Regions from separate parts of the Homo sapiens genome. Here all the other regions are linked to region 2. The links come from fine-mapping of genetic effects on gene expression. A gene starts in region 2. Each other region holds a variant in brackets. All regions are shown on one strand. Distances are from middle to middle.

What was found. PIP is the estimated chance that this variant, and not a neighbour inherited with it, causes the effect.
Region 1: its variant is the best candidate, but not a certain one, in a credible set for the expression of NPAT in blood mononuclear cells (TOPMed, PIP 0.54).
Region 3: its variant is the best candidate, but not a certain one, in a credible set for the expression of NPAT in whole blood (INTERVAL, PIP 0.76).

Annotation. Positions count from the first base shown.
Region 1 is chr11:108,435,473-108,446,645 of GRCh38, forward strand. All of the region lies in intron 2 of C11orf65 (chromosome 11 open reading frame 65), which reads right to left. Among named protein-coding and RNA genes, the nearest start is that of C11orf65, 26 kb to the right of the region's middle. RefSeq lists an enhancer at 3,385-3,529 and a cis regulatory region at 3,457. The variant G/A (reference allele first, on the strand shown) is at 5,790.
Region 2 is chr11:108,220,452-108,225,451 of GRCh38, forward strand. NPAT (nuclear protein, coactivator of histone transcription) reads right to left here and starts at 2,187. Exons shown (of 18, transcript NM_002519.3): 1 at 2,049-2,187. The coding sequence starts at 2,085. It overlaps ATM (ATM serine/threonine kinase), which reads left to right and starts at 2,616. Exons shown (of 63, transcript NM_000051.4): 1 at 2,616-2,735. RefSeq lists enhancers at 2,083-2,142, 2,553-2,712, 3,023-3,102, 3,453-3,502, 4,999-5,000.
Region 3 is chr11:108,142,487-108,153,659 of GRCh38, forward strand. ACAT1 (acetyl-CoA acetyltransferase 1) reads left to right here. Exons shown (of 12, transcript NM_000019.4): 9 at 1-64; 10 at 1,497-1,561; 11 at 3,716-3,873; 12 at 4,784-5,117. The coding sequence ends at 4,904. Among named protein-coding and RNA genes, the nearest start is that of ACAT1, 27 kb to the left of the region's middle. RefSeq lists a silencer at 8,283-8,451. The variant C/A (reference allele first, on the strand shown) is at 3,294.

The sequences.
Region 1 (11,173 bases), 220 kb after region 2:
TAAGAAAAGTTAATGGAAAATTATAACAACCCCAAACAGGCAGAATTGTTAAAGGTCTAGCCCCTTTAGGAATGAAGTTTTGCGTCATTCCCTTCCTCCACCCCTGAGCAAGGAACCACAACCAGCTGAAGTGCTTGCTGAAAAAAAGAGAGAATATGAAATAGCTAGTGGAAGAAAAAAGTTAAAAATACCAGCTATGATTCCCATAATTAGCTGCAGAAACAGGTAGTATCTATGAGTATTTCTTCTATATATCTGCATATAAATATTAGCCATTTTTTTCTTTTGTTTTCTCCTGCTCCCATTCCCCTAAAACAAATGTAAAGTGTGTTAATCATAGTGTGGTAGGCAGCATAACGCTCCCTAACAAAAGATGTTCACACCTAATCCCTGTAATCTGTAATGTGTAAATATGCTGTTACATGGAGAGGGTGAATTAGGATTGCATTTGGAACTAAGGTTGCTAATCAGCTGACTTTGACACAGGGAAATTATCCTCATTGGCCCAAGGTAATTGCAAGGGTCCGTATAAAGGACATAGAAGAGTCAGCAAGAGTGGTGTGATGAGGGAAAGACTTGACAGGTCATTGCTGGTTTTGAAAATAGACAGGGGTTGCTCCAGGAAAGGATTTTAGGAGGAAAAAAAAAAAAAAGAAAGAAAATAGAAGGGCATAATGAGCCAAGGATGCGGGCAACTTCTAGAAGGAGGAAAAGGCAGGAAATTCTTCCCTAGAGCCTCCAGAGAGAACACAAGCTCTGCTGACGCTTGATTTTAGCCCAGTGAAGCCCATTTCAGACTTCTGACCTCCAGAACCGTAAGATAATACATTTTTGTGGTTTAAAGCACTAACTTTGTGGCAATTTTTACAGTAGCATTAGGAAATTAATACAAGTACTTAACCTTCCACCTGGTATTTAAAGTATAAGATATCATAGGTAGAGTATGGTTCAGCAAAAAGAGGAATAAAAATGATCCAAAAAGGGATAAAGGTACTTTTGGGAAGGTTGTGAATATGCTTTGGCCTGTATGAGGAATGTTAGGTGGAAGCATGGTTTTGATTCTATTTGGAAGTTAAATATGGTTAAAAGGGATTTGTATGGATGCCAAGGTGACAAGGGGTAGACTCAGCTGGGTTATTCTATTGTCAACTTGACCAAACAAGGACAAATATAAAGAAAATGACATATAGACACATCATAATCAAACTGCTAAAAACCAAAGACAAAGACGCAATTTAAAAGCAGCCAGAAAATAAATACCACAATACTTTCAGAGTAGAAACGGTAACACTATTTATTGACTTTTTAATAGAAACTATGGGAGACAGAATACAATGGAATGCCATCTGAGTGCTGAGGGGGGAAAAATCCCAATAACATGCCAGTCCAGATTTCTATGAAATGTGATAATATTCTTTGAAAATAAAAAGGAAATAAATATGCTTTTAGACAAACAAAAGCTGAAGGGATTTTTCACAGGAGGTCTGGCATCTAAGAAATCTTATAAGAAATACTACAGACACATCTATAGTTCCAGAACTTTGGGAGGCTGACATGGGAAGATCACTTGAGGCTAGGAGTTTGAGACCCACCAGGTCAACATATTAAGAACCCATTACGACAAAAAAAAAAAAAAAAGGGGGGGGGTGGACAAAATTTTAAAAATTATCTAGGTGTGGTGATGCACACCTGAAGTCCTAGCTACTCAGTAGCTTGAGGTAGGAGGATCACTTGAGCTCAGGAATTCGAGGCTACAGTGAGCTATGATTGCACCACTGCACTCCAGCCTGGGTGACAGAGCAAGAACTTGCCTCTCAAAAACAAAATCAAACTACAGAGAATTCTTGAGTTGGCAGAAAATTAATACCATAAGGAAGCAAATAAGGCTGCAGGAACAAATGAAGGGCTCTGGAAATGGTTTGTATCTGGATAGATAAAAATAGATACTGAAGGCTGGGTGCAGTGGCTCACGCCTGTAATCCCAGCACTTTGGGAGGCTGAGGCGGGCAGATCATGAGGTCAAGAGATCGAAACCATCCTGGCCAACATGGTGAAACCCCGTCTCTACTAAGCATACAAAAATTAGCTGGGCATGGTGGCGCATGTCTGTAGTCCCAGCTACTCGGGAGGCTGAGGCAGGAGAATCGCTTGAATCCGGGAGGCAGAGGCAGAGGTTGCAGTGAGCTGAGATAGCACCACTGCACTCCAGCCTGGTGACAGGTGAGACTCAGTCTTAAAAAAAAAAAAAAAAAAAAAAAAAAAAAAAGGATAAGGAAATTAAACGGAAAAACACCCCACATTCACAGATTGGAAGCCTTAGTATTGTTAAGATGACAGTATTACCCAAAGCAATGTACAGATTCAATGTAATCACTATCCAAAATCCCAACGGCACTTTTTGAAAAAATAGAAAAGCCCATCCTAAAATCTATGTGGAACACAAGGGACCCTGAATAGCCAAACAGTCTTGAAAAAGAATAAAATAAGTGAAAAAGTGTGAGTTGGAGAGCCATACTTCCGGATTTCAAAACTTACTAAAGCTACAATAATCAAAACAGTTTGGTACTGGCCTAAGGACAGATATATAGGCCAATGGAATAGCATAGAGAGCCTCCAAATAGACTCATATATATGTCGTCAACTCATTTTTGACAAGGGTTTCAAAACCATTCAATGAAGAGGACAGTATTTTCAACAAATGTATCCGTGACAATTATATACCCACATGAAAAATAATGAAATTGGGTCCTTAATTTACACCATATGCAACATTAAATCAAAATGGATCAAAGATTTAGGTGGCATGCAGTGGCTCACGCCTATAATTTCAGCAATTTGGGAGGCCGAGACGGGCAGATCACTTGAGGTCAGGAGTTTGAGACCAGCCTGGCCAACGTGGTGAAACCCTGTCTCCACTAAAAATACAAAAATTAGCTGGGCATGTGGCGCACTCCTGTAGTCCCAGCTACTCGGTAGGCTGAGGCAAAAGAATCCCTCAAACCTGGGAGGCGGAGTTGGCACTGAGCTGAGATTGAGTCACTGCACTCCAGCTTGGGCAACAAAGCAAGATTTCGTCTGGAAAAAAAAAAAATCAAAGATCCAAATATAAGAGTTAAAGCCATAAAACTCCTAGAAGAAAATATGGGGGAAAAGCTTCATGACGTTGGATTTGGTAATGATTTCTTGGATATAACACCAAAAGCACAAGAAACAAAATGAACAAAAAGATAAACTGGACTACATAAAAATCAGACTGGGTGCAGTGGCTCACGCTTGTAATCCTAGCACTTTGGGAGGCCAAGGCGGGCAGATCACTTGAGGTCAGGAGTTTGAGACCAGTCTGGCCAACACAGTGAAACCCCATTTCTACTAAAAATACAAAAATTAGCCAGGCATGGTGGTGGTCGCCTGTAGTCCCAGCTACTCAGGAGGCTGAGGCAGAAGAATCATTTGAACGCAGGAGGCAGAGGTTGCAGTGAACCGAGACTGTGCCACTGCACTCCAGCCTGGGTGACAGAGCGAGACTCCATCTAAAAAAAAAAAATTAAAACTTTTTGTGCATCAAAGGACACTAACAAGAGAGTAAAAGGGCAATCCACAAAATGGGAGAAAATATTTGCAAAGCAGATCTTCGAAACATAAAGAACTGCTACATCTCAACAACAAATGCAAAACAACTCAATGTAAAAATGGGCAAAGGTCTTGAATATATATTTCTCCAAAGAAGACTTACAAGTGGTCAATAAGGACAAAAAAGATGATCAATATCACTAGTCATAAGGGAAATGTAAATCAAAACTGCAATGAGATACGACTTAACATCCATTAGAATGGCTATTACCAAAAAACTTGAAAATAGCAAGTATTGGCAAGGATATAGAGCAACTGGAAACCTTGTGCATTGCTGGTGGGAATGTAAAATGGTACAGCCACTGTGGTAAAGTTTGGCAGTTCCTCACAAAGTCAAACATTGAATTACATAATCCAGCAATTCCACTTCTAGACATATACCAAAAAGAAAGCAATGGCTCAAACAGATATTTTTACATCAATTTATTAGCAGCATTATTCACAGTAACCAAAAAGTGGAAATAGCCCAAATGTCCATTAACAGATGAATGGATAAATACAATGTAGCATATAGATATATAATGGAATATTATCCATCCTTAGAAAGGAATGAAATTCTGATACATGCTATAAATTGGATGAACATTGAAAATGTTATGTTGAGTAAAATAAGCCAGATACAAAAAGATAAATCCACTTAAATGAGGTACCTAAAATAGGAAAATTCACAGAGACACAAAGTAGAATAGAGATAACTGGGGTCTGGTGGTTAGGAGGTTTTTGTTTAATGGGTACATGAGGTTTTGTTTGGGATGATGAAAAAGCTGTGGAAATGGATACTGGTGATAGGTGCACAACATTATGAATATACTTAATGTAATTGAGTTATACACCTAAAAACGGTTAAACTGGTAAATTTTATGTTATGAACATTTTACTACAATAAAAAAGTGAACACTGGCTGTTTAAAACAAGAATAATAATGTCTCCTGGTACTTAAAACAAAAGTGTAAGTGAAATATCTGGAAATAACAGGACAAAGGTGAAGAGGCTAAAGTGAGTTAACATGTTATGAGCTTCTTACATTGTTCTGAAAAGGGTAAAAGTACTAATTTAAGGTAGAGACTAACTAATCAAGGGCAAATATTGTAACTTTGCCCTTTCTAGCTTAACCCTCTAAAAGAATATATAGCTGTTCTAATCATCTATTACTGTGTAGTAAAGTACCTCAAAACTTAGTAGTGTAAAAACAACCACCATTTTATTATGCTCATAATTATGGGTTACGAATTCTGGTAGGGAATAGTAGGGAAGTCTTGTCTCATCTCCACAATGACTGAGGCTTCAGCGGGGATGACTTGAACAGTAGAAATGGCTGGGATGGCTCAAGTGGGGCCCAATATCAAGGACCTGCATTCTAGCTGTCAGCTAGGTCTCTTGGTTCTTTTCCTTATTACACTTATTGGGCATGGAATATAAAAAATGGCCTTTTCACTTACGTATCTGCTTAAGTGGGCTGTAATATCTGTTAAAACAGGATAGTCAATCATCAATCTCTGGAGGCAACCTCTCCATGAGGCTAGCCTGGGATTCACTTCAGCATGGCAGTTTCAGGGCAGTTATCCTTCCTACATGGTGGCTGTTCTCACTCAGAATGAACATTTCAGGACACAGACTTGGACACTGCAATGCTTTTTATGACCTAGACTAAGAGGTTCCAGAATGTCATGTCCTATTTTAGTGGTTTTAATGGTAAAGCAAGTTACTAAAATAGCCTAGATGAAAGGGAAAATATGACCGATAGGAAGAGGAGGTTCCAAGATGGCCAAATAGGAAGAGCCCCAGTCTACAGCTCCCAGCATGAGCAACGCAGAAGACAGGTGATTTCGGCATTTCCAAGTGAGGTACCGGGTTCATCTCACTGGGGCTTGTCAGACAGTGGGTGCAGCCCAAGGAGCATGAGCCAAAGCAGGGCAACGCACTGCCTCACCCAGGAAGTGCAAGGGGTTGGGGAATTCCCTTTCCTAGCCAAGGGAAGCCGTGACAGATGGTACCTGGAAAATTAGGACACTCCCACCCTAATACTGTGCTTTTCCAACAGTCTTAGCAAACAGCACACCAGGAGATTATATCCTGCACCTGGCTCAGAGGGTCCCACACCCACGGAACCTTGCTCACTACTAACACAGCAGTCTGAGATTGAACTGCAAGGCGGCAGC[G/A]AGGCTGGAGGAGAGGCGTCTGCCATTGCTGAGGCTTGAGTAGGTAAACAAAGCAGCCGGGAAGCTCGAATTGGGTGGAGCCCACCAACAGTTCAAGGAGGCCTGCCTGCCTCTGTAGACTCCACCTCTGGGGGCAGGGCATAGCTGAACAAAAGGCAGCAGAAACTTCTGCAGACTTAAACGTCCCTGTCTGACAGCTTTGAAAAGAGTAGTTGTTATCCCAGCATGGAGTTTGAGATGAGAGAATGGGCAGACTGCCTCCTCAAGTGGGTCCCTGACCCCCAAGTAGCCTAACTGGGAGGCACCCCCCAGTAGGGGCAGACTGACACCTCATACGGCCAGGTGCCCCTCTGAGACAAAGCTTCCGGAGGAAGGATTAGGCAGCAACAATTGCCATTCTGCAATATTTGCTGTTCTGCAGCCTCCGCTGGTGATACCCAGGCAAACAAGGTCTGGAGTGGACTTCCAGCAAAGTCCAACAGACCTGCAGCTGCGGGTCCTATTAGAAGGAAAACTAACAAACAGAAAGGACACCCACACCAAAATCCCATCTGTATGTCACCATCATCAAAGACCAAAGGTAGAGAAAACCACAAAGACGGGGAGAAACCAGAGCAGAAAAGCTGAAAATTCTAAATATCAGAATGCCTCTTCTCCTCCAAAGGAATGCAGCTCCTTGCCAGCAACAGAACAAAGCTGGATGGAAAATGACTTTGATGAGTTGAGAGAAGAAGGCTTCAGATGATCAGTAATAACAAACTTCTCCGAGCTAAAGGAGGATGTTCAAACCTATCACAAAGAAGCTAAAAACCTTGAAAAAAGATGAGATGAATGGTTAACTAGAAGAAACAGTGTAGAGAAGACCTTAAATCACTTGATGGAGCTGAAAACCATGGCAAGAGAACTAGGTGATGCATGCACAAGCTTCAGTACCCGATTCAATCAAGTGGAAGAAAGGGTATCAGTGATTGAAGATCAAAAGAATGAAAGGAAGCCAGAAGAGAAGTTTAGAGAAAAAAGAGGAAAAAGAACGAACAAAGCCTCTAAGAAATGTGGGACTATGTGAAAAGATGAAACTTACGTCTGATTGGTGTACCTGAAAGTGATGTGGAGAATGGAATCAAGTTGGAAAACACTCTTAAGAATACTATCCAGGAGAACTTCCCCAACCTAGCAAAACAGGCCAAAATTCAAATTCAGGAAATACAGAGAATGCCACAAAGATACTCCTCGAGAAGAGCAATCCCAAGACACATAATTGTCAGATTCACCAAAGTTGAAATGAAGGAAAAAATATTAAGGGCAGCCAGAGAGAAAGGTCGGGTTACCCACAAAGGGAAACCCATCAGAATAACAGCGGATCTCTCAGCAGAAACTCTACAAGCCAGAAGACAGTGGGGGCCAATATTCAACATTCTTAAAGAAAAGAATTTTCAACCCAGAATTTCATATCCAGCCAAACTAAGCTTCATCAGTGAAGGAAAAATAAAATACTTTACAGACAAGCAAATGCTGAGAGATTTTGTCATCACCAGGCCTCCCTTACAACAGCTCCTGAAGGAAGCACTAAACATGGAAAGGAACAACCAGTACCAGCCACTGCAAAAACATTGTAAAGACCATCGATGCTAGGAAGAAACAACATCAACTAACGAGAAAAATAACCAGCTAACATCATAATGACAGGATCAAATTCACATATAATAATATTAACTTTAAATGTAAATGGGCTAAATGCTCCAACTAAAAGACACAGACTGGCAAATTGGATAAAGATTCAAGACCCATCACTGTGCTGTATTCAGGAGACCCATCTCATGTGCAGAGACACACATAGGCTCAAAATAAAGGGATGGAGGAAGATCTAACAAGCAAATGGAAAACAAACAAACAAAAAAAGCAGGGGCTACAATCCTAGCCTCTGATAAAACAGACTTACACCAACAAAGATCAAAAGAGACAAAGAAGGCCATTACGTAATTATAAAGGGATCAATTCAACAAGAAGAGCTAACTATCCTAAATATATATGCACCCAATACAGGAGCACCCAGATTCATAAAGCAAGTCCTGAGTGACCTACAAAGAGACTTAGACTCCCACACAATAATAATAGGAGACTTTAACACCCCACTGTCAACATGAGACAGATCAACGAAACAGAAGGTTAACAAGGATATCCAGGAATTGAACTCAGCTCTGCACCAAGCAGACCTCATAGACATCTACAGAACTCTCCACCCCAAATCAAGAGAATATACATTTTTACAGCATCACACGACACCTATCCCAAAATTGACCCCATAGTTGGAAGCACTCCTCAGCAAATGTAAAAGAACAGAAATTATAACAAACTGTCTCTCAGACCACAGTGACATCAAACTAGAACTCAGGATTAAGAAACTCACTCAAAACCGCTCAACTACATGGAAACTGAACAACCTGCTCCTGAATGACTACTGGGTACATAACAAAATGAAGGCAGAAATAAAGATGTTCTTTGAAACCAACCAGAACAAAGACACAACATACCAGAATCTCTGGGACACATTTAAAGTAGTGTGTAGACAGAAATTTATAGCACTAAATTACCACCAGAGAAAGCAGGAAAGATCTACAATTGACACCCTAACATCACAATTAAAAGAACTAGAGAAGCAAGAGCAAAAACATTCAAAAGCTAGCAGAAGGCAAGAAATAACTAAGTTCAGAGCGGAACTGAAAGAAATAGAGACACAAAAAACCCTTCAAAAAATCAATGAATCCAGGAGCTGGGTTTTTAAAAAGATCAACAAAATTGATAGACCACTAGCAAGACTAATAAAGAAGAAAAGAGAGAAGAATCAAATAGACGCAATAAAAAATGATAAAGGGGATATCACCACCGATCCCACAGAAATACAAACTACCATCAGAGAATACTATAAACACCTCTACGCAAATAAACTAGAAAATCTAGAAGAAATGGATAAATTCCTGGATACATACACCCTCCCAAGACTAAACCATGAAGATGAATCCCTGAATAGACCAATAACAGGCCCTGAAATTGAGGCAATAATTAATAGCCTACCAACCAAAAAAAAGTCCAGGACCAGACGGATTCACAGCCGAATTCTACCAGAGGTACAAAGAGGAGCTGCTACCATTCCTTCTGAAACTATCCCAATCAATAGAAAAAGAAGGAATCCTCCCTAACTCATTTTATGAGGCCAACATCATCCTGACACCAAAGCCTGGCAGAGACACAACAAAAAAAGAGAATTTTAGACCAATATCCCTGATGAACATCGATGCAAAAACCCTCCATAAAATACTGGCAAACCGCATCCAGCAGCACATCAAAAAGCTTATCCACAGGGTGGAGCCAAGATGGCCGAATAGGAACAGCTCCAGTCTACAGCTCCCAGCATGAGCGACGCAGAAGACAGGTGATTTCTGAATTTCCATCTGAGGTACCAGGTTCATCTCACTACGGAGTGCCAGGCAGTGGGTGTAGGACACTGGGTACAGCGCACCGTGCACGAGCTGAAGCAGGGCAAGGCATTGCCTCACTCCGGCAGCGCAAGGGGTCAGGGAGTTCCCTTTCCTAGTCAAAGAAAGGGGTGACAGATGGCACCTGGAAAATCCAGTCACTTCCCATCCTAATACTGCACTTTTGCAACGGGCTTAAAAAACGGCACACCAGGAGATTATATCCCACACATGGCTCGGAGGGTCCTACGCCCACGGAGTCTTGCTGATTGCTAGCACAGCAGTCTGAGATCAAACTGCAAGGCAGCAGCAAGGCTGGAGGAGGGGTGCCTGCCATTGCCCAGGCTTGATTTGGTAAACAAAGCAGCCGGGAAGCTCCAACTGGATGGAGCCCACCACAGCTCAAGGAGGCCTGCCTGCCTCTGTAGGCTCCACCTCTGGGGGAAGGGCACAGACAAACAAAAAGACAGCAGTAACCTCTGCAGACTTACATGTCCCTGTCTGACAGCTTTGAAGAGAGTAGTGGTTCTCCCAGCATGCAGCTGGAGATCTGAGAATGGGCAGACTGCCTCCTCAAGTGGGTCCCTGACCCCCGAGCAGCCTAACTGGGAGGCACCCCCCAGTAAGGGCAGACTGACAACTCACGCAGCAGGGTACTCCTCTGAGACAAAACTTCCAGAGGAACGATCAGGCAGCAGCATTTGCAGGTCACCAATATCCACTGTTCTATAGCCACCGCTGTTCTGCAGCCACCACTGCTGATACCCAGGCAAACAGGGTCTGGAGTGGACCTCTAGCAAACTCCAACGGACCTGTAGCTGAGGGTCCTGTCTGTCAGAAGGAAAACTAACAAATAGAAAGGACATCCACACCAAAAACCCATCTGTATGTCACCATAATCAAACACCAAAAGTAGATAAAACCACAAAGATGGGGAAAAAACAGAGCAGAAAAACTGGAAACTCTAAAAAGCAGAGCACCTCTCCTCCTCCAAAGGAACGCAGCTCCTCACCAGCAATGGAACAAAGCTGGATGGAGAATGACTTTGACGAGCTGAGAGAAGAAGGCTTCAGACGATCAAACGACTCCGAGCTACAGGAGGAAATTCAAACCAATGGCAAAGAAGTTAAAAACTTTGAAAAAAAAATTAGACGAATGGATAACTAGAATAATCAATGCAGAGAAGTGCTTAAAGGAGCTGATGGAGCTGAAAGCCGAGGCTCGAGAACTACGTGAAGAATGCAGAAGCCTCAGGAGCCGACGCGATCAACTGGAAGAAAGGGTATCAGTGATGGAAGATGAAATGAATGAAATGAATGAAATGAAGTGAGAAGGGAAGTTTAGAGAAAAAAGAATAAAAAGAAACGAACAAAGCCTCCAAGAAATATGGGACTACGTGAAAAGACCAAATCTACGTCTGATTGGTGTACCTGAAAGTGATGGGGAGAATGGAACCAAGTTGGAAAACACTCTGCAGGATATTATCCAGGAGAACTTCCCCAATCTAGCAAGGCAGGCCAACATTCAGATTCAGGAAATACAGAGAACACCACAAAGATACTCCTTGAGAAGAGCAACTCCAAGACACATAATTGTCAGATTCACCAAAGTTGAAATGAAGGAAAAAATGTTAAGGGCAGCCAGAGAGAAAGGTCGGGTTACCCACAAAGGGAAGCCCATCAGACTAACAGCGGATCTCTCAGCAGAAACTCTACAAGCCAGAAGACAGTGGGGGCCAATATTCAACATTCTTAAAGAAAAGAATTTTCAACCCAGAATTTCATATCCAGCCAAACTAAGCTTCATCAGTGAAGGAGAAATAAAATACTTTACAGACAAGCAAATTCTGAGACATTTTGTCACCACCAGGCCTGCCCTAAAAGAGCTCCTGAAGGAAGCACTAAACATGGA
Region 2 (5,000 bases):
TAATTATCTGAACACTAAGGGGAGAAAACTTAACTTCTCTATGTTCAGCAATTGGCACAGTGTTTGGAACATACTAGGCACCCAAAGATTTGCTAGAAAAAAAACATTATGAAGGGACCAATAACAAGAGGAGCTGAAGATGGCGAGGGGGTACTGATAGGAAAAGAATCATGAGTAAATAATAAACCTCATATGAGAAAGATATACACGATATGTATCTATTTAAGATGTAAAATGATAAACGACAAAAGTAAGAGCATTAGGCATGGGGAGGCTTTTTTGTATTGTATACTCCTGCCCATCTGAAATTTTTAGTAAGAATAGAATTATCTCAACTTTCAGACTAAAAGGTATAGTGTGAAAGCTTCAGGGAGATTTGTAACAACAGTAAATAAAATGAATTGCGAGGACAACTGTCTGGGAAGCCATGACAGAAGTCCAAAAGAGAAGTAATGGCAGGCACATTGCGGGATTGGTGGCAGTGAAAATGGAATGTGAATGACAAAGATTTTTAAGATAAGAAAACCATGGCTGGCGTTTTTTGTCCATTAAATGAAAAGCAGGAAGTCAGCAGAGTAGCTGGTTTGTGGAGAAAGAATACTCACACATCGATGTGAATTATTTCAATTAGAAAATGATACTGCTTTCTTAGGGCTTTCTTAACTAGGGGTGATTCTGCCCTCCAGGGGACATACTAGCAATATCTAGAGACATTTTCACTGATCACAACTGGGTAAGGGTAGGGTGGGGAACGGGTGTCCTACTGTAATCTAGTGAATAGAAGCCAGGAATGCTGCTAAACATCCTACAATGTTTGAGCACAGGATAGCTCCCCACAATAAAGAATTATGAGGCCCAAAATGTTAACAGTACTGAGGCTGAGAAACCATGTTTAAGACTATAGTTACCGAAACTCAACTAGATTACCAAACTGCCAAAACTCAGAATTCTTAAGCAAAAGATTAATCAGACATTAACAAAACATTAAACTTGTCATTAAGTTTCTTCAAAAATGGATGGTGGAACCATTTCCGTTTAACGTTTCCTGCAAAATGTGCTTATCAAGAGCCCTGCGCAAATAACATTTTTGTGGACAGCGCTGGGCATTTAAAAGAGGCACAAGACAAATGGGTTTTCCGAACAATAAAATAATAGTAGTAATGGCTGTGAATACTATGGGAGGTTTCATCACAGATGCTTGCCATTTACTTTTAGGGACGTCGCATACGACGTCCGTAAATTACTGGCTCGGGTTTTGAGCTTTACCTGGCTCTCGTCCCCTGTAGTACAATCCTCTTTATTCTTTCAGGGGACAAACAACAACAAAACCCGTCTCTCACACAGACAATACACCCTGACAGACAAGTGACCCACAAACAATCCCTCCTCAAATGAAGGTAAAACTAGGGCTAGAAAACGTTCAACTAATTTAAGGCAATTAACCCTCTGAAATTTTTCGCTGATCAAAGGAACAGGAATTGCTGTTTTAAAATATGCAACTGGCATTTCACACCTCTACACTGGACGACGTATTGCGTGGAGGATGGAGAAGGAAGATCACCCCTACTCCCAAATTCGTAGTTATAAGGGCGGGTTATTAGAAGGGCGCCAGGAAGGTCTCTCTACAAAGATGGGGGGCCGGGGAACTCCCTATTTGCCCTATTTTGGTCCCAACACTGAACCAAGGAAATTGCGCCCAAGGTTGAAGCACACGCAATCCGTCCGTCATGCAGACAAATGCTCTTTCAGGGGTCCTAATTAAGTGTGGAGGCCTGACTTTCCTTCCGAATCCGCCCCAGGTGTTCCACCCCGAGCTTCCCCTCGGGCTTCCCCTCGCCACGCAGCCTCTGAAGAGAGGAGCATCTACATACAAAGAGGCTTAAACTGCCCAGAACCTCCGAATGACGAAGAATCACCGCCAGTCTCAACTCGTAAGCTGGGAGGCAAAACCCCAAAGCTTCCCTACCAAGGGAAAACCTTTGGCCTCAAAGGTCCTTCTGTCCAGCATAGCCGGGTCCAATAACCCTCCATCCCGCGTCCGCGCTTACCCAATACAAGCCGGGCTACGTCCGAGGGTAACAACATGATCAAAACCACAGCAGGAACCACAATAAGGAACAAGACTCAGGTTAAAGCAAACACAGCGACAGCTCCTGCGCCGCATCTCCTGGTTCCAGTGGCGGCACTGAACTCGCGGCAATTTGTCCCGCCTCTTTCGCTTCACGGCAGCCAATCGCTTCCGCCAGAGAAAGAAAGGCGCCGAAATGAAACCCGCCTCCGTTCGCCTTCGGAACTGTCGTCACTTCCGTCCTCAGACTTGGAGGGGCGGGGATGAGGAGGGCGGGGAGGACGACGAGGGCGAAGAGGGTGGGTGAGAGCCCCGGAGCCCGAGCCGAAGGGCGAGCCGCAAACGCTAAGTCGCTGGCCATTGGTGGACATGGCGCAGGCGCGTTTGCTCCGACGGGCCGAATGTTTTGGGGCAGTGTTTTGAGCGCGGAGACCGCGTGATACTGGATGCGCATGGGCATACCGTGCTCTGCGGCTGCTTGGCGTTGCTTCTTCCTCCAGAAGTGGGCGCTGGGCAGTCACGCAGGGTTTGAACCGGAAGCGGGAGTAGGTAGCTGCGTGGCTAACGGAGAAAAGAAGCCGTGGCCGCGGGAGGAGGCGAGAGGAGTCGGGATCTGCGCTGCAGCCACCGCCGCGGTTGATACTACTTTGACCTTCCGAGTGCAGTGGTAGGGGCGCGGAGGCAACGCAGCGGCTTCTGCGCTGGGAAATTCAGTCGTGTGCGACCCAGTCTGTCCTCTCCCCAGACCGCCAATCTCATGCACCCCTCCAGAGTGGCCCTTGACTCCTCCCTCTCCTCACTCCATCTTTCCTGGCCTCTCTCCGGGTGCTTAGCGGACTTGGCCAATAACCTCCTCCTTTTAAACGCCCTGAATTGAACCCTGCCTCCTGCGCATCCTCTTTTTGTGTCACCTTAGGGTTCAGATTTAACTACGCGACTTGACTAGTCATCTTTTGATCTCTCTCTCGTATTTAGTACTTTTAGTCAGCGAGCATTTATTGATATTTCAACTTCAGCCTCGCGGTTAAGAGCTTGGGCTCTGGAATCATACGGCTGGAATTGGAATTCTGTCAGTCGTGTGGCCGCTCTCTACTGTCTTGTGAAGATAAGTGAGATAATCTTGACCTGTGGTGAGCACTCGTGAGCGTTAGCTGCTGTATTTACCAGGTACAGATAAGACAACTACAGTGGATGATAATGTATGTGGTGATAGGGGAGTACTCTGATGGTAGAGGAGTGACTTTGGTTCTCTGCAAACTCAGCCTGAGACTATCAATTCAGTTTGTGGTGAGACCTCGCAGTGTTACCTTGGCAGATGGTAGAAGCCTTCCAGATGGAAGGAAAAATGCGTGTAAAGGCACAAAGTGTAGAAGGACCCTGAAGCTCCAGCGTGAGGCCTGGCATTGAATGAAATATATTTTGTGGGTTTTCAGCTGCTGAAGTCATAGGAATGGATGAGACCAAGAAAACAAAGCTGTTTTTGAGGTATGAGCGGAAGAAGAGATATCAGGAGACTTTCGAAACAGTCATAACGGAAGTTAATATGATCATTGCTAACATTTGCTGTGTTTCAGGCACTGTAAGCATGTATATGGGTCCTTAAAGGGACTCATAGAGGTAGGTACTAGTATTGTTTTTCCTTTTATCATTGAGAAACTGAGGTTTGAAGAGATTAGTGAACTTGCTCTAGATTATACAGTTTGTAAGTGGCTGAACCAGGATTTGAACTAATACAATCTGACTACAGAGGCCACACTCCTTAGCACTAGAAAAGAATGGCATGCCAAGGGCAGAGTTATTTCTAGGAAGATGGGATATAAGCGTCATTGTCAAGTTGTGCAAAGGGGTCAACTTGGTTGAGATCTAAAAAGGAACACTGAATTCGTCAATTCAGAGGCTCGTAGGAAGTAGGAAATCCTTATCTTTTCGTTTGAACCTTGAGTGGAACCTAGATATTCTGGATTAATGTATAAATGAAGTTCATCTTTATATGGTGACACTCATACTCTAGTTGACTACCTAATAGTTCCTCTGCCTTCTTTCAGTTCCGCCAACATACTGTGTTCTTTAACATTGTAGAACCCTTTGGCTATGCTAGTCTCCTTCCCTGAAGTGTTGGTCCTCTAGCCCTTTTTTTGATTGGCACCAGTTAGTTCAGATCTTGGCTTTATTATAAACTCCTCTGAGATATATGTTCCCTGACAGTTTATCTAAAATGATTCTCTCTACAGTTATTTTCTATTACTGTGTTTTTGTTTCCTCAGAGGCATACATCACAATTTGGAATTATGCATTGGTTTATCAATTTACTTGTTTATTGTCACCCTGCTGCCCAGATATGACTTCATGAGGGTAGGATTTGTATCTGTTTAGTTCATTATTTGTCTAGCTATAAGTAGTAAATATTGTTTGCATCTATCAGTGAATGAGCATCTTCTGTTTATGTAGATAATACTGAACTGTTTTGTTTTCTTCAAAGTAATCATTAAGCTGAAGGTAAGAAAAACAAGTTCAAGGAAGTCACACCATGGGGAAAAAAAAGTCAAGTTTAGGGCTGCCTCTTCCGGGAAGTGTCAAATCTTTAGTATATTTAGGAATAAAGGTGCCAAACCTTATGGTTCTTTGGATATTGCTAAGGTATTTTCATTGGTTAGATTACCAGTTTCATTTTCCTTATTGACTCAAGAGGGCTTTAAACTGAGATTGAAGAAGTAAGAAGATTCCTAGATAAAACCATAAGGAATGGAAAAACAAAAATGATAATACTTGTCCACAGGAAGTATATAATCAAATGAAAAGAACTCAAATAACAATCTGTAATCTATAGCAGAGTAAAGCGGAAGTTGTAATAGTGTTGGGGGATGGGGGAAGTCAGAAGAACCACCAGTGAATATAAAAGGAGAAGAGAATCAGAGCCATCTGCTAATAAAAT
Region 3 (11,173 bases), 75 kb before region 2:
CTGGTTCTCATGACGGCAGATGCAGCGAAGAGGCTCAATGTTACACCACTGGCAAGAATAGTAGGTAAGGCCAGGCGAGGTGGCTCACACCTGTAATCCCAGCACTTTCGGAGGTTGAGGTGGGAGGATTGCTTGAGCCCCGGAGTTCGAAATCAGCCTGGGCAATATAGTGAGACTTCGTCTCTACAAAAAGTTAAAAAATTAGCTGAGCATGGTGGCATGTGCCTGTACTACCATCTACTCGGGAAGCTGAGGTGGGAGGATGCCTTGAGCCCAGGAGTTTGAGGTTGCAGTGAACTGAGATTGTACCACTGCACTCCAGCCTGGGTGACAGAGCGAGACCCTGTCTTAAAAAAAAATAAGGTTTCTAAACATCTATAAGCTCTTCATGAAATTGAGTTTACTTGTTAGATATAGCCAACTCCAATATTAAGTATTACTACCTAGGTTGTACTTGTGGCAGAATTTAATTGATACATATTTCAATTGAGATAGAAGCTCCTTTAATATTTTCATTATACTTTATATAAGATTAAGCTTTAAGGGCTGGGCACAGTGGTTCACGCCTGTAACCCCAGCATTTTGGGAGGATAAGGCAGGATTGCTTGAGGCCTGGAGTTTGAGACCAGCCTGGGCAACACAGTGAGACCCCACCTCTGAAAGAAAAAAATTAGCCAGGTGTGGTAGCATGCCTGTAGTCCCAGTTACGTAGGAGGCTAAGGCTGACGATCATTTGAGCCCAAGATGTCAAAGCTGCAGCCAGCCTAGGCAACAGAGCAAGATCTTGTCTCTTTTTCTTTTTTTTTAAATTAAGCTTTAAAAAACTTCCTGTCCTGTATGATAAATAGCAGAAAATAAAGTACATGCATTTTCCTACAGAGGCAGCTATGTAGGAAAAAAAGAATATGGGATTAGGAGTCCAGAAATACAAAATTTACATGTGTGGTGTTTTAGTATTTATTAACTCTGTGGCCTTGGGCAAGTTCTCAATGTCCTTAAGCCGATTTTTAGCTGCAGAAATCTGTCTTGCCTTCTTCCTAAGGACTTAACAGATGCTATTTTGTTACTTTATAAAAAGCCTTATAACTTCATTTTTTTTCTTAGCTTAGATCATGGTTTCTTAACCTCAGCACTATTGACTTTTGCACTAAGTAATTCTTTGTTGTAGGGACTGTTCTATGCATTGTAGATGTTTAGCAGAATCCTTAGTCTTTACCCAGTGGCATCTGAACTATTCTGACAACCAAAAACATCTCTAGGTGGTGCCAATGTTCCTAGAGGCAAATACCCCCAAACTCCCCCCCAATGAAAATCAGTGTCTTAGATTACTGGAGTAATTTTATAAAGTGTAGAATCCTAGAAAAGGAAGACATATATTTACATATATTAAAGGGGCTAGGAAATGTGCATTTAATGGGCTAAACTTGGCTTGTGCATATTCTATACAGTAAAAAAAAAAAGATTTTAACAACCCCCCCCCCCCTTTTTTTAAACAGCATTTGCTGACGCTGCTGTAGAACCTATTGATTTTCCAATTGCTCCTGTATATGCTGCATCTATGGTGAGAACAAAGTGAGGGGCGATACTCCATTATGCTAGCTTCTGGTTTGCTTATACCAAGGTTGCAGTTTTTAAGATTTTAAATGTTATCTGCCAAAGCAGAGAGATAGCTTGGTTTCAAATCTTCCCATGTCTTCTCCTGAAAAGAGTAAGAGCAACAAGGATAACAAACAAAAAAAAAAAAATAAAGAACAGCTCACAAACTACATCTTCAGTAGAACAGGTAAAACTACACATCTGAATTACTTGTAAGTATCATACAGAACTCACACACCTGGTGTGGTAACCACAAAGCGGAGGGAATGCTGGCTGATGGTTCCAGATCTAGAATGGAAAGCAACTAGTCACTCCCCAGGAGAGGACTCCATTCTGAAAGGGAACAGCTGGCAGCAGGTCTTCAGAGTAAATAGTAAAACTAGAGACAGAAAACCTACATATTCCAAATTGTCAGTAAGGGCTATCCAAGTCTCAGTGGGAAATTGCTAAGCAGTCACAGGAAAAGAAAGTTTTAGGGGTTCAGGGTTCTTAGAAATCTTAAGTAAATATTTCCTTTTGAGAGGGCCTCACCCTGACAGTAAACTTCTGTAAGCACCCAGATAAAAAAAATTGCAGAATTTTAGTAAAATCAGATTCTCCCCACTGCCCCCAACCCCCGCAATGAAAAAAAAAACTGCAGAATCAGTAGGAAACAAGAATAGAGAAGATCAGAAACAAGGGGCCAGTGGAGTGATGATCTGCTCAGAGCTAGCAGATCTCAGAAAATGAAAGGAACACGCAGCTTCTGAAAGTGAGTAACATCACGTTGGAAAGCAAGGGTAATAAACAATTCTGGATTCTGAAGGTAGAATAACTTCTGAGAGCTACAGACATAGCTATATATGGGTACCATATTTTGTTTTGTGTTGTTGGAACAGTGGAAGCTGTTTGAGCTGTATAGGCTAGAAAGCTACCCTTAGTCCACTAGTAGAAGAGAGGAAGATGGAGGAAGAGTTCCACGTTAATTTTATTATCGCTCACAACAATCAAATTTCTTCTGTAAAGAAAAAGGGCACTCACTAGTAATGTTTTAGGGCACTCACTAGTAATGTTTTAAAAAGTATTAGCATAGGGATAATCACTGGCACAAATACACCTTCCTGCATAGCTGAGGAACTACCAAAACAAAACAGATCATATAGTGTAAGATTTTAAATAAATGACTTACAATGAAACTGCAACAGATGTAAATATCTGTGGCCCAGATAACCCTACAGTAACATTTATAAAGCAGAAACTGCAGGGGATGCATTAATATCACTAATATTAGAAACTAATATACCTCTTTCATTAACAGTCAAGAACATAGAAATGGCTGGGTGCAGTGGCGCTCGCCTGTAATCCCAGCGCTTTGGGAGGCAGATCGCTTGAGCCTGGGAGGTCAAGGCTGCAGTGGGCCATGACTGTGCCATTCCACTTCAGCCTGGGTGACAGAGCAAGACCCTGTCTCAAAATAAATCAACAACAACAAAAAAGAATATAGAACCAAGCAACACACAATCAGTAAAGCAGAGCTTAAGAATATATAAAGCATTATGTGCCCCTAAATAGAAAATGTACCTTTTCAAATATCTGTGGAAAGAAAATCAAATTTTCTGTCCCCTATGTCAAAACAGACATAATGCAAACAAAATTCTTTGATATAATGGAATAAGATGAGCAACTAAAAATCTGAAAATGGGCCGGGTGCGGTGGCT[C/A]ACGCCTGTAATCCCAGCACTTTGGGAGGCTGAAGTGAGCAGATCACCTGAGGTCAGGAGTTTGAGACCAGCCTGGCCAAACATGGTGAAACCCTGTCTCTACTAAAAATACAAAAAATTAGCTGGGCATGGTGGTGGGCATCTGTAATCCCAGCTACTCAGGAGGCTGAGACAGGAGAACTGCTTGAACCTGGGAGGCAGAGGTTATAGTGAGCCAAGATGGCGCCATTGCACTCCAGCCTGGGAGACAGAGCAAGACTGTTGGAAAAAAAAAAAATCTGAAAATAGAGATCCTTCCATCTGAAACCAAGAACTTCCATATTTAAATAACTTATGTCAAACTGTAGTATTTCAAGGAAATGATGACAGTAAGTTGTGATTGCTAATTATTTGAACATCATCTGTCTTTTAAAAAATTTAAGGTTCTTAAAGATGTGGGATTGAAAAAAGAAGATATTGCAATGTGGGAAGTAAATGAAGCCTTTAGTCTGGTTGTACTAGCAAACATTAAAATGTTGGAGATTGATCCCCAAAAAGTGAATATCAATGGAGGAGCTGTTTCTCTGGGACATCCAATTGGGTAGGTAAAAATAATAACTATATCTAGGTTAAGAGCTGCCTTTGTGTTTCTAGCTAAACTTAAAACTGCTTCATAATTCCCATTGCTCTTAAGTTTTCCTTCCTACCCATCTTTCATAAGGCAAAAACCATTTCTGATAGATGGTATCCAATACTGAACAGAGACCTGTCACATCTGTTATTTGAAACCTAATAATGTTTTATGCTGAAGAAGAAAAAGTGTACATTTAGACTTTTTACCCCCTTTTTCTCCTTCCTATTTATTTCATTAGCTTTAGGGTACCGTGGGTTTTGGTTACATGGATGAATTTATAGTGGTGGGGGCTGATTTCAGTGCACCTGTCAGTCACCCAATATGTAGTTTATCCCACATCCCTCTTCCATTATACTCTACTCTTCTATCCATTATACTGTTCTGTACTTTTAAAAGATCTGTGACCTGGCCAGGCACGGTGGCTCACGCCTGTAATCCTAGCACTTTGGGAGGCTGAGGTGAACAGATCACGAGGTCAAGAGATAGAGGCCATCCTGGCCAACATGGCGAAACCCTGTCTCTACTAAAAATACGAAAATTAGCTGGGTGTGGTGGTGCACGCCTGTAGTCCCAGCTACTTGGGAGGCTGAGGCAGGAGAATCGCTTGAACCCAGGAGGTGGATGTTGCAGTGAGCTGAGATTCTGCCATTGCACTCCAGCCTGGCGACAGAGCGAGACTCCATCTCAAAAAATGATCTAAGATCTGTGACCCTTCCTGAAACAAGTCCTCCAAGTTTTAGTTTTAGAATAGTAGTAGTTAATTCAGCAAGTAGTAGTGGCTAGTAAGGTTTTCAAGAAGTTAAATTGGAATAGAAACATTTTGGTTAGTCATAAATTCTGTACTTCATTAAAGAAGTAAATGCTTTCTTAATTTTAGGATGTCTGGAGCCAGGATTGTTGGTCATTTGACTCATGCCTTGAAGCAAGGAGAATACGGTCTTGCCAGTATTTGCAATGGAGGAGGAGGTGCTTCTGCCATGCTAATTCAGAAGCTGTAGACAACCTCTGCTATTTAAGGAGACAACCCTATGTGACCAGAAGGCCTGCTGTAATCAGTGTGACTACTGTGGGTCAGCTTATATTCAGATAAGCTGTTTCATTTTTTATTATTTTCTATGTTAACTTTTAAAAATCAAAATGATGAAATCCCAAAACATTTTGAAATTAAAAATAAATTTCTTCTTCTGCTTTTTTCTTGGTAACCTTGAAAAGTTTGATACATTTTTGCATTCTGAGTCTATACTTATCGAAATATGGTAGAAATACCAATGTGTAATATTAGTGACTTACATAAGTAGCTAGAAGTTTCCATTTGTGAGAACACATTTATATTTTTGAGGATTGTTAAAGGTCAAGTGAATGCTCTTTATAGGTAATTTACATTTAGTAAATTACGGTAAATTAAATTACTTCTCTTTACAGTAAGAGTTGGCTATTCTGGACAAACTAGCAGTGCTTCATATAATCACTCAAACCACAGTGTGTGCAGCAGTACTAGAAACAAGACAGAAGCCCATGTCCTCAGGGTCTAGAGTGGGGGCAATTTCTTATAACCTCAACATTCAGGGTTGGGGGAGGTCAAGCAGAAAACCCTGGAGTTTGGGCTCTGAATTACTATAGCAGCATAGAGAGTGGGAAGGGAGGTAGAAACTGATATGCTGAATGGATATATAAAAAAGGGAACAGATCACCACTTCCAATACACGACAATGCCTGTTCTTAAGCAGGACAGACTGTAACAGAAGTATCTCGCATTGCATTTTATCTGGGAAAAAATTAATTAATTAAAACGCTACAGGCAGGGGCTATGCACACTACCCTCAATTGCAGCTCTGAAGAGGGAAAACTCCCCCTCAGGAAGAGGAGGGGGCAGTAAAGGTCATTGTGTACACATTATCTGTTGGCAAATAATGTATTGTAGATCTTTTGAAGGAGCAAAATGACAATATATGGGAGAAATAGATTAGATTGCTCTTCAGATTCAGAGGAAGAGTAGAGTATTTTCAAAAACATCTGTAATCATCACCAACTTTTGAGGCTTGTTATGTGCTTTATATGTATAAACTCATTTAATTGTCACAAAAACTTCTAAGAGTGGGTACCATTATTATCCCTCCTTTATAAACAAGGAAATTGAGGCATAGAGTAGCTAAATAAATTCCAAGGGCAAAAAGCTGGCTAGGATTCAACTCCAAGTTAGTCAAGCTCCAGAGCCCACGTTCTTAACTTACTATGCTTTAGTTAAATGCCTTTCAATAATTATCTGCCCCGACTTACAAAAACTTCTAACTGAACCAGGAGCTGGATAAGATATAGGAGAAAAGGAAACCCAAAACATGAGAATACTTCATTGAAGATAAGCAGAAACTAACATTGCATCCAAAGGTCATTGATCTGGAAAACATCTGAGAAGTGCTCTGACAATTCTGGGAAAAAATGGAAAAGAGAGAAGAAACAGAGAATCAAGTAAGTAGGTTTTTTAATTTGTTTTAAAGAGATAAGGTATTGCTCTGTCGCCTGGGCTGGAGTGCAGTGGCATGACCATAGCTCACTGTAACCTTGAACTCCTGGGTTCTCAAGTGATCTGCCTCCCTCAGCCTCCTGAGTAGTTAGGACTATAGGCACATGCTACCATGCACAGCTTAAATGGTGTTTCCTAAAAAAAAAAAAAAAGATACTCTGAAGCAATAATTTAATATAACAGAAAACATAAAGATAATAGAAAAACTCAGATTTTTAAGTCCTAAGGGGGAAGATTTTAAAGAGCATTTTTTTTTTTTCTTTTTTGAGACAGAGTTTTGCTTCGTAGCTCAGGCTGGAATGCAGTGGCACGATCTTGGCTCACTGCAACCTCCGCTCCCTGGGTTCAAGCGATTCTCGTGCCTCAGCCTCCTGAGTATACAGGCATGCGCCACCAAACCTAGCTATTTTATTTTCAGTAGAGAGAAGAGTTTTGCCATGTAGGCCTGGCTGGTCTCGAACTCCTGACTTCAGGTGATCCTTCTGCCTCGGCCTCCCGAAGTGCTGGGATTATAGGCATGAGCCACCACGCCCAGCCCTAAAGAGCATATTTTATTGGCAAAATTAATTAGCAGAAAATCATACTAAGACATTCTGGAGAAAATGTATTAAATTCCTCTAACATCTAGTTAGAAAAATAGGTAGCCACAGTTCTTATTTCTATTACATTCAATCCAAGAAAACAAGTGACAGGACATCTAACTGTTTTTAATGAAACAAAATAAGATACTAAAAGGTGTGTCTCAAACACAGAAAAGTTTAGAAAATAAAGTACTCTGATGTTTCCTCCAAAAATGACAAAGGTTTAGGCAAGCCCATGGAATGAAGAATTAAGAATTCAGTTAGGTGAAAGTTTCTAATTTTTTAAATGACTGCTTAAGGACTGGCTGGGGAAGAAGGAAAGGTAGTGGTTGAAGGAAATAAAAATGTTTTACCTCAAATTATATTTATTTGACATATTTTGAGATGGCTATCAGAGGGCCAGCAAACAGAAGTGGTGCTGCAAAGCTGTCTTTTTTGAAAGAAATCTGCGTCTATGGAGAATCTCCATTAATGCAGCCAGGACTTCCCTTGTCTGGAATCTAGAAAAGGTTAAATGAGAGCCTGTCTGACACCTTTAAAGGTCTTAAACATTTAACATCCATTCTCTCAGAAAGCTTCTAACAAGACCACCTTTCCTAGCCAGGTCTCCTTTCCCTACCCGTAACCTGTGTTGCCACTAAAACCTGATTTACCAAAATAACATGTTTTTGGCCATGCTGGGAGCTCACATTACTTCTGTAACCTGAAGATGGTATAAAGTTCCTACACCTGGCCGGACACAGGGGCTCATGTCTGTAATCCTGGCACTTTTGAGAGGCCCAGATGGGCAGCTCACCTGAGGTAAGAAGTTCGACAGCAGTCTGGCCAACATGGTGAAACCCTGTCTCTACTATAAATACAAAAATTAGCCGGTCGTGGTGGCGCATGCCTGTAGTCCCTGCAACTCAGGAGGCTGAGGTGGAAGAATCGCTTCAACCCAGGAGGCAGAGGTTGCAGTGAGCCAAGATCACACCATTGGACTCTAGCCTGGGCAACAGAGTGAGACTGTCTCAAAAAAAAAAAAAAAAAAAAGTTTCTACACCCCACTGGGGGCGGGGTCAGGTCTTTGTCTGAAGGCCCCCATGTATACAACATTAAATAAATGTATATTCCTTTTCTCCAATTAATCTGCCTTTTGCAAACAGCTTTATTTTCCAGCAAACCTTCAGAGGGCCAAGGGGAACTTCAAGGTTACAGTGAAATGATCCTGCCACTGTACTGGGGGACAGAGGGAGACCTTGTCTCTTAAACAAAGAAAAGAAATACCATTTACTTTCTGGTTCTCTATTTTTTCTCTTCCTTTCCATTTTTTCCCCAGAATTTTCAGAGCACTTTTCAAATGTTTTCCAGATCACCAACCTTTGGATGCACTACTTACCTTCAGTGAAGTATTCTAAAATATGTTGAGTTTCCTTTTTTCCTTGTATTTTCCTTTTTTTTCTTGTGTTTTACACCTACCTCCTGGTTTCCCTTGGCCTTTACATGGTGAAATATCGGTAACATGTTATCTTTATCTGCTAAATAAAGGTAAACGCTAGTAGGACAAGTTCTGAGACTGCCCTCACGGGACTTACAAGAATTGCATGCTGGGTCCTGGACAGAAATATAGTTATAACTAGGCACTAAACAGGCTGCACCTTGGCCCACTTCCTAAACCCTCGGGGAGAGATTTGAAGTTTCCTCCAGTCTCCTCATTCGGTGGCCCTGCAATTAAACATCTTTCTTTGCTGCAGCCCAGGGTCTTACATACTGACTTGTCATGCACAATGGGCAATGGACCTGTTATGGTTACAGTTCCATATCTTAAGTTACTATAAGACAACAGCTTTAAAATCCAATAATAAAGTAAAAAGAGGCTGGGCGAGGTGGCTCACGCCTGTAATCCCAGCATTTTTGGAGGCCGAGGCAGGTGGATCATCTGAGGTCAGGAGTTCGAAGACCAGCTTGGCCAACATGGAGAAAACCCGTCTCTACTAAAAGTACAAAATTAGCCGGGCGTGGTCGTGCATACCCGTAATCCCAGCTACGTGGGAGGCTGAGGCAGGAGAATCGTTTGGGCCAGGGAGGTGGAGGTTGTGGTGAGCTGAGATCATGCCACTGCACTCTAGCCTGGGCAACAAGAGCGAAACTCTGTCTCAAAAAAAAAAAAAAAAAAAAAAAAAAAAAAAAAAAGTAAAAAGGGTTGCATGTATCATAAATTATGAGAAGGCAGAAACTGTTAAAATGGGGAAAGAACTACTTTTTATGATGGTCTACTTTGTACTTTTTTTTTTGGCAGAAAAAAAGCCAAAGCTATGACCAAGATAATAATGTTTCATGGATTAAACAAACACTTGTGAAAAAAGTATTAAAGCAAAGACAGGATTCAAACAGTATAAGACTGAATACATATCAAACTTTACCTTTCTAAACAATACCTATTTCTTTTTTAACTTTTTTTTTGAGATAGGGTCTTGCTCTGTTGCCCAGGTTGTAGTGCAGTGGCATGGTCTCATCTCACTGCAGCCTTGACTTCCTGGGCTCAAGTGATACACCCACCTCAGCCTCCCTGGTAGCTAGGACCACAGGTGCATACTACCATGCCTGGCTAATTTTTGGTAGAGATGGGGGTTTCATCATGTTGCCCAGGTTGGTCTCGAACTCCTGGGCTCAAGTGATCTGCCTGCCTTGGCCTCCCAAAGTGCTGGGATTACAGGTGTGAGCCACCATGCCCAGCCAACATTACCTATTTCTAAGCCCCCGTGCAACATTTATAAAACCTGCAACTTATCCTGACCACAATAATAAAAATTTTAGGCAAAAAAGAGCCTGGTATCATTTATTGTAAATAGTTATGTATGAATATTAAAAGTACTTACCCAAATTTTGCTGAAAGTTGAAATCAGAAGCAAATTCACAGCCTTAAATGCTTACATGGTTTAAGAAGGGGAAAAAAAAATCAGATAACTGTTTATTAATTTAAGTTAAATAAACATGCAAAAAGGACCCTGAGAAAGTAGGAAGCACAAAGAATAGGCTCCTATACAACTGTTGAATCTAAGAAGTGTTTTTGACAGAAAAAAGTTAATTGTATCTTAGAGAACAAAAGCCAAAATTAAAAAAAATGTGATATTTGACTCAGGAAAAAAAAGGTCAAAGCCTGAATAGATAATCAGCCAGGAAGAAATTTAGGAGAAAAAAAAATGGAAAACTGCTTAAGCAAAAGGCTCCAGGCCTAGATAATTTAGTAGTGATTTAGTCTCAAGGAACAGTTATTTCTCATTCTAAATAAACTGTTGCAGAAAAAAGAAATAAAAAACAGCATCAGCTATAATAGCAACTAGTTCTTAAAGTGCTTATTATGTTCCAGGCATTAATCTAAGTGCTTTTACATATATTGTACAATTTAAACTTCACACTTTAGCACTGGTACTATTTATTATCCCCAATATTCAAATAAACTAGAAAAAGAAGGAAAGGTTTAAAATTCATTTTAAAAACTGGCATAAGTTTGAAACCAATCTCATTAAAAGTAAACTTTTCATTGGGTGTGTTGGTGTGCACTTGTAGTCCCAGCTACTCATGAAGTTGAGGCAGGAGGATCCTTTGAGCCCAGTAGTTCAAGGCTATAGTGGGCTATGACTGTGCCCATGAACAGCCACTGCACTCTAGCCTGGGCAATATAGCAAGACCTTGTCTCAAAAACAAAAACCAAAAACATTTAAATAAAATATTCACAAAGCAAACTTACTTAAAATAATCACTAATATAAAAAGAAATTCATGAGTTCAATGAAAATATTTTAATTGATGCTTAAACGTGGCAATTAAGTTGAACAGGTACTTCTGATGTAAAATCGTAAAACTCTACCAACAAAAGCAAACATTATACTTAATAAAAGCAAACATTATACCTAACATTGCCATTAAAATGGGGAACAAGACAATGAAGCAGACTTTGATCATTATTAGTTGCACTGGAAGTGCTAATATCAGTGTAGTAAAAATAAATAAAATTGGAAAATAATTATTTACAGATAATACTTCACAAATTAAAAAGTAGCACTGGTAAATCCATTAGTACTAACAGACTTCACTCAGTATAGAAAATAAATAGAACTAAAATATAAAAGATTTTGGGACTGGCACAGTGGCTCACGCCTGTAATCCCAGCACCTCGGGAGGCT